2 linked regions of the Homo sapiens genome follow. The protein of the gene in region 2 purifies or fractionates together with the protein of the main gene of each other region. This does not show direct contact. Each region holds a gene or a part of one and is shown on either strand. Other genes may lie near its edges. The genes, in order: FAM234A and TAS2R8.

Region 1 (3,817 bases), on a different chromosome or scaffold from region 2:
TGCCACATCCCTGGCCAGCCTCACTCGTGGAGCATGACTGCCCTGCGGCTCCTCAGGTCCTGCTTCTGCTCTCGAGGTGCTGGAGTCAGGAAGCCCAGGGGCCTGGCTCCATGTGGCACTGCGTGCCCCTGGTCCGGGTTCACAGCGTGACCCTGGTGACCTCGGGCCCTTCTGTGTTTTGAATAGCAAGCTCCCTCTGCGGCTGCTCTGTGAAGGGTCTCTACGAGAAGGTGACCGGGAGCGGCGGCCCGTTCAAGAGTGACCCGCACTGGGAGAGCATGCTCAATGCCACCACCCGCAGGATGCTTTCCCACAGGTGGGTCCGGGCCGCAGCCTTTCTCCATGCAGAGCGCCCACCCCATGGCTCTGCTCGCCTGCCTCAGCGTTCGGACAATCTGTGTGGAGCCCAGAGCAGCCCCACCGGCAGGGAGGTGCTCGGGGTACCGCAAGGTCACCCTGGGCTCAGATGTGAGAAATGGTCAAATAAAAGTTGAGTAAAGAGAAGAAAGGTTCCCGACGCTGTGCCTGTCTGTCTCCACGGAAAGTGGGGGTCTTTCTTCTCTTTTCTGTTTTTTTTTTTTTTGGTTGTTTTTTTTTTTTAAGACGGAGTCTTGCCCTGTCCCCCAGGCTGGAGTGCAGTGGTGCGATCTCGGTTCACTGCAACCTCCGCCTCCCGGGTTCAAGTGATTCTCCTGCCCCAGCCTCCCGAGTAGCTGGGATTACAGGCGCGCACCTCCACGCCCAGCTAATTTTTGCATTTTTAGTAGAGACGGGGTTTCTCCATGTTGGTCAGACTGGTCTCGAACTTCTGACCTCGTGATCCGCCCGCCTCGGCCTCCCAAAGTGCTGGAATTACAGGCATGAGCCACCGCGCCCAGCTCTTCTCTTTTCAAGCTGTAGAACTGAGAAACGGGTTATGGGGGCCTAAGAGGAGCACCCTGAGACGGGCGGTGCCAGAGCCTCCACTGGGTGCCTGAGGCCGCCCCGGGGACCCGGCGCCCCTTTCTCCCACTCTCCTGTCTAGCTCTGGAGCAGTGCGCTACCTGATGCATGTCCCAGGGAACGCCGGTGCAGATGTGCTTCTTGTGGGCTCAGAGGCCTTCGTGCTGCTGGACGGGCAGGAGCTGACGCCTCGCTGGACACCCAAGGCAGCCCATGTCCTGAGGTACAGGGTTTCCCCAAGGACCGCGCAGGTGCTGCACCCCTTCCCGGCATCCCGGGCACATCCCGTTGGCTGGCGAGGAGACAGCGCTGGGGGTGGGGCCGGAGGCCGTGTGCTGCTGCCCGGGCTTCTTGCCTGTCTCTGGTACTTGCCCCTTGCCCCAGACGTCGGCTCCGTGTCCTGGGCCCTGGTCCAGATGTGGCCATGGGAGACTGAGGGGCGGACGTGTTCCTGGGTGCTTCCTTCATCTCAGTCTCCTCACTGAGACCCCTCGTGAGCGCTTCCTCCATATTGTTCCAGAAAACCCATCTTCGGCCGCTACAAACCAGACACCTTGGCTGTAGCCGTTGAAAACGGAACTGGCACCGACAGACAGGTTCGTTGTTCTTCCTTCGGAGGTGGCACCTTTGTTCTTAGCTGAGGATAGACTGGTCTGAAAGCAGACGGGGCTGCGGCCCAGGAGGCTGCTGCCGTCAGAGCTGCTGAGAAGGTTCTGCCTCCCTCAGAGCATCTGCCTCCAGGGCTGGCATGGCTGAGGGCACGTGTGCCTGTGCAAGCCTCGAGCTTTTCCCGGTAGCCCCCACGTTGGCCCCCACAGTGTCCCCTCCCTCCCCAGATCCTGTTTCTGGACCTTGGCACTGGAGCCGTCCTGTGTAGCCTAGCCCTCCCGAGCCTCCCTGGGGGTCCACTGTCCGCCAGCCTGCCGACCGCAGACCACCGCTCAGCCTTCTTCTTCTGGGGCCTCCACGAGCTGGGGAGCACCAGCGAGACGGTACGGGAGCCACCCTCGGAGCAGCCATGCTGGGAGCCGGGGCCAGAGACCCAGGCTGGAGCTCCACCGTGGAGTGCCCAGAAGCTCATCGGTGCCTGGGCAACCTCACATAAGTTGAAGTCCAGTGACAGTCAGGATGAGGTGGTGCAAGCTGAGGCAAAGTGACCTTAGAGGGGTCCAGCGAGAAGGGGCTGATGGCCTTCGGTGGATAGGGGCGCACACAGCCATGCCCTGAAGGGAGTGGCTGCCGGCAAGGACCAGTGTCAGGACCAGGTGGGGTGGGAGGACCTGGGAGGTGGCCACAGAACTGGGGGCTGGCATTTGGGGGACCCAGATAGGGCCCCTAGCAGACATAGAGCTCCAGGCACGGTCACTCTGACAGCAGTGTCCTGTGGGAGTGCTCAGTGAAGGGCGTGGGGCCCATTGCTGGTTCTCGCTCCAGGAGACCGGGGAGGCCCGGCACAGCCTGTACATGTTCCACCCCACCCTGCCGCGCGTGCTGCTGGAGCTGGCCAATGTCTCTACCCACATTGTCGCCTTTGACGGTGAGTGTGGCCTCGGCCAGGGACCCGGGTGTTCCGCGGGGTCTGCCCTGGCTGGTCCTGAGCCGCCCTGACAGCTGTGTCCCCCACCCTGCAGCCGTCCTGTTTGAGCCAAGCCGCCACGCCGCCTACATCCTTCTGACAGGCCCGGCAGACTCAGAGGCACCCGGCCTGGTCTCTGTGATCAAGCACAAGGTGCGGGACCTTGTCCCAAGCAGCAGGGTGGTCCGCCTGGGTGAGGGTGGGCCAGACAGTGACCAAGCCATCAGGGACCGGTTCTCCCGGCTGCGGTACCAGAGTGAGGCGTAGAGGCACGCCAGCCAGAGCCTGTGGAGAGACTCCGCCTGCTGACACTAAACGTCCTGGGAAGTGGGCCCTTCCCTGGGTCTCTGCACTGACTCCCCCACTCCTGACCCTGGTGATGGTCGCCACTGGGCAGCAGCAGCCTTACCAGTCCTCCATGATCACACCCAGGGACCTGCATGGGTGAGGGGACACCCTGGGCCTCTCTCCCGCCCAGCATCCTCCCTGAGTCCCCACACAGGGCCTCACTCTGCACCCCACCAGGGTCCCGCTCACACCAGGCAGCCTTCATAGTGGTCTCCCTGGCCACCTTGGGCAGAGCTGGGTCATGCAGCACCCCATCCTTACCCGGTGCCCTCTCCTTGCCAGCTTCTCCCCAGGCCAGAGCGGCCATCGCGTAGAAAGAACCAGGGTGTCCCCGGGACAGGCCGTCCCCCACCCCATCCTGTAGAAGTCCATTCCCCTTTTCCCTCCTGTGCTCTGTCCCCCAAGGAGTCATGGAACTCAGGGTACTGGGCCTCAACGGGAACCTGAGACAGCTCCAGCTTCGCAGCCCTTCCCGGAGCTACAGGGGGATCCTCTAGCATGGGGGGTGTGACTTGGTTCCTTTGACCAGGTCCTGTGAGGAAGCCTGGAGCAAGGGTCTCCCCCAGCAGGATGGGTGGGGCCTGCTCTGGAGCTGAGCCCGTGGCCGCTCACAGGTGTCCTTAGTGGTGTTGCAGCTGTCTACTGGCTGCATGTGCTGTGAATATCCCAAGGAACTGGCTGTGGAATGCGTGTTTGGGTCAGTCTGTGCCCTCTCAGTAGACACTGGAGCTGCTCTGTCCCTGAAGAGGCCCCGTGCCCCAGGCATGGCAAGCGCCTGCCTCTCCCCTTCCGGTGCTCACACGCCCACGCCGTGCCACCCGATGCAGGACTCACCTCTGTGCCTTGCTGCTCCTGAGGCCCAAGGGCAGCCATGGTGCTCTGTACTGCTCGGGCCGCCCAGGTCACAGAGCCTGAGCTTCGTAGCCAAAGCAGCCTGATGACCCACCCACC
Region 2 (3,553 bases):
TCAATAGAAATCATCAGAATAAGGTCAACCAGAAAATATTACCTAGGAGACCATGGAAATCATCATTCGGGAAAACCAAAGACAGACCAGAGAACATCTGAGTTCCTAATCAATAAGCCAAATGGGGGTGACTCAGCAGAGCCATGAAAGGAGCACAATTAAGGAGCGGCAATAAAAATGTATGACAAAGAAAAATGAGAAACCAGTTACTGTAGCTCAGGTCCACTTTACCATGAGCCAAAGTAAAATCTAAAAAGACTTTAACTAGGCAATACAGGCCTAACACTTGCGTTGAGGAGACAAGAAGAGAAGCATGAGCTCTGAAATTCTTCGAGGAAAGGGAGTGTAAAGATGAGCATTTCTGAGTTGTAAAGGGATAGAAAAGATGTATTCAGTAGTTTGCTACTAGGTCCTAATAATATTTAAAGATATGCATCCAAAATAAATGAGATAACTGGGGAAAAATGAGAATAGACTATTAAGAAAACTATATTTTTTGTTAGAGAAGATTTGGTTTTAAATTCCATTTATACAGCTAAGATTTCATATCATGCAGGCAATTTTTCTACATGTCAGCATTCTGACAAATGTCTGCCTCAGTTTATTATTTAAAACAATTAAAATAAGTGAGTGACCCAAGGGGTAGAGAATTGCTGCAATCTCTCCAAACTCCACAGCTAACTTGTATTTTGTCATAAGATAGCTAAAGGTCATCAAAATAGAAGAAATATAGTATAGGAAAAAAAAGAAGATAAATGAAGTCATAGTTTTAATGGCTCTCACATGAACTTCTGTGCTGGGGTCTCTACTGCCGGTAGCATAGAGTTTTATTTGCTTGGTATGTCTCCATAAAGATCTTACTAAAAGGAAAAATGATATCAGTGACACAATAAATGGGACAATTGCAAACAGGTTAAAGAGAGTCAAGGGTTCAAAGTATGGTATTTTACTCACATGGAACATTTCAGTAATGTTTCTTTTATGTTTGGCAATTGCATGAAACCTATAATCACAACTCAGTACTATTGCTGCTATAAGGCTGACCAACAAGGAAATGGCAAAGCATCCCAGCAGGATCCAGTGCACCACCATATCAATTTTCCACTTCAGCCAGAGAAAAAGTGGATGAGAGGAACTGGCTATCTTCAGAAAATAGAAGACATTAAGGCAGGTGGTAATCCACATATTTAAGTAGTTGGCAAATGTCCAGAAGGTAAAAATGACTATCTGTTGTTTATTTTTTGTATAAACATCTGGGTTCAGTACTATTACAATGCCATTTACAACCATTACACTGATCAAACAAATTCTGGCGATAACTAAATTGGTAAGGATGTAGTCAACTGTGGAAATCTTTTTCTTCTTAATCCAGTCAATCCAGTTGACTAGTGCAATGTATCCATTCCCCAATATTCCTAGTATGAATTCTCCAGTTATTAGGATTATAAAGATGTTATCTGCAGGACTGAACATGTTTGTAGAGAGAACAATCTGATTTCAAATATCACTGTAGATGAGCTAATTTACAGGTGACCTGTTAAAGCATGATAGATCAATTCTTCGAATCATGCAATAATGTTTTCATCTGCTGTTATTTCGACGTTGTTATTCTTCCGGAAGTGTTCAGCTCTCCTCTGAAATAGGATTGTCTCTACACTCCTGAAGATGAAACCAACTAATGAGCAGCTTGACTAGTTATTTATAGCCTGGAAAAATTATAATTATTATCCTTTAGTGAGTGATACCTGAAATGTTTGGCTGAAATTGCTCCCATGCAAATTCAAAGAGATTTTATATCATGAATTTGCAACAGGCTTCTTGCTGTAGCTCTATATTTGGATCTTCAAATTGAGTTTTGAATAGGGAGTCATAAAAAAAGAGATAAATGTTTAATAAAAACCCAACTGTGTAAATAAAACTTCATTTTCATCATGTAAGTTATAAATAAGCCACAAATCAGTTCTCCCAGATGCAAAGAAATTTTCACTTTGGAAGTAATTAGTACAATTAGATTGTAGATATTTAACATTTAGTCAGAGGATAATAATTCTTGTCTTCATTTAAACGGCTAATTAGGGAAGGATATAATACAAATCTAATTAGAAATGACTTTTTTTTAGGCAGGCACATGATAATATTTACTAAGAATTTGCTTTCTTTTCAATTGTTCCTCAGAAGTGAAATATGCCAGGTAAAGATTTGTTATCTTTAGTTTTTTTTTAATGTGACAAATACCCTTGAAGACAATTCATTTCCTGAATCACTGTCTCTTGTATAATAAGCATTGTAATCTAAAATTAAGAAAATTTAAATTTTACATTATTCTAGTTCCAATCAACTCCTTTTATAAGATTTGTAATCTCACAGTGCATATTATAGTCATATTTCTAGATAGGGCAAACACATAAAAAAGTAACTACTTGGGAGACTGAGGCAGGGGGATCATTTGAACCGGGAGGCAGAGGTTGCAGTGAGCCAAGATCGTGCCACTGCACTCCAACCTGGGCGATACAGTGAGACTCTGTCTCAAAATAATAATAATAATTTTTTTTTTTTACATACCAGTATTTCCAAGGAATAGGACTAATTCTACTATTAAATTAGATTTATTTGTTTTGGGGTAAGGGAAAGTACAACTTAGCCCAAAATACATTTGAATGTAGGTAATACAAATCACAATACCCTAGGGCTTCTTGTATTTAAATAGTTCTACAATGTATACAACACATGCAGGATTTTTTCTATTTCTTACATGTGTGTAATGTGTAACAGGAAAGCATAAACTTAATAACTTAAAGAAACCTAGTTATCTATAAACTACTGCTGGAAACAAAATAGAAAAGAAAATGATGCAGAGGGAAAAAAATATGTCAGAGATTTCTGAGTTAGAAGGCTAGAGAGAACATTCCAGGGAATCTTTGGGAAATGACTTCTAAAATTGCCATCACCAGCTAGAGTACTCATGAACACGCTGACTACTGGGACCCTCAACCTTCTTTCTCAAGGTGGTTCTGCTATACATAACTGTGCCTCCTCTCTCTGTCAAACTTTCATTCTTGAGATTATACTCCTTTTCCCACATCATATATCATCTTAGATAGAATCTCATTAAAGATTGTTTTTCTCCCTTCTTGATCAAGACAAACCCTTCCAGAAATGGAGAGGAAAGGGCGGTGAAGATAAGGACCGGCCTTCATTTCAAAGTAGAGAGTTGTTTTGCATGATTGATTTTATAGCAAGGGTTGATGAGTTCTAAAATCTTTTCCCCAAAGCCTGTTTGCCTGACATTCTTCTACTCATTGAGTTCAAGGCCTTTGCCAGTATTTGTCAGAAAAGAAGTAGAACCTCTTTGTATTTAGTCAATGACATAAAATGATGAAATGTTAGTGTGGGATTTAGATGCATTTTTTTTTTCTGCAACGACAAAGAATATACGGTGCAATGATAACATTAGATTATCCATTAAACAAGACAAAAGTGTGAAGGAACACAAAACAAATCTTCAGAATCATGACAGATATTAATGACTTCCAATAGCATATAAGAGAAAATG

What was found.
Region 1: the proteins of TAS2R8 (region 2) and FAM234A purify together in Homo sapiens (affinity purification with mass spectrometry; one large-scale study listed by BioGRID and IntAct). This does not show direct contact.

What each region holds. Positions count from the first base shown.
Region 1 is NC_000016.10:262,238-266,054, forward strand, and holds part of FAM234A (protein FAM234A), read left to right. Parts: intron 1-186; coding exon 187-316; intron 317-1,024; coding exon 1,025-1,165; intron 1,166-1,462; coding exon 1,463-1,538; intron 1,539-1,778; coding exon 1,779-1,934; intron 1,935-2,376; coding exon 2,377-2,479; intron 2,480-2,573; coding exon 2,574-2,785; 3' UTR 2,786-3,817.
Region 2 is NC_000012.12:10,805,508-10,809,060, forward strand, and holds TAS2R8 (taste receptor type 2 member 8), read right to left. Parts: upstream 1,780-3,553; 5' UTR 1,474-1,779; coding exon 544-1,473; downstream 1-543. UniProt on the Homo sapiens protein: Receptor that may play a role in the perception of bitterness and is gustducin-linked. May play a role in sensing the chemical composition of the gastrointestinal content.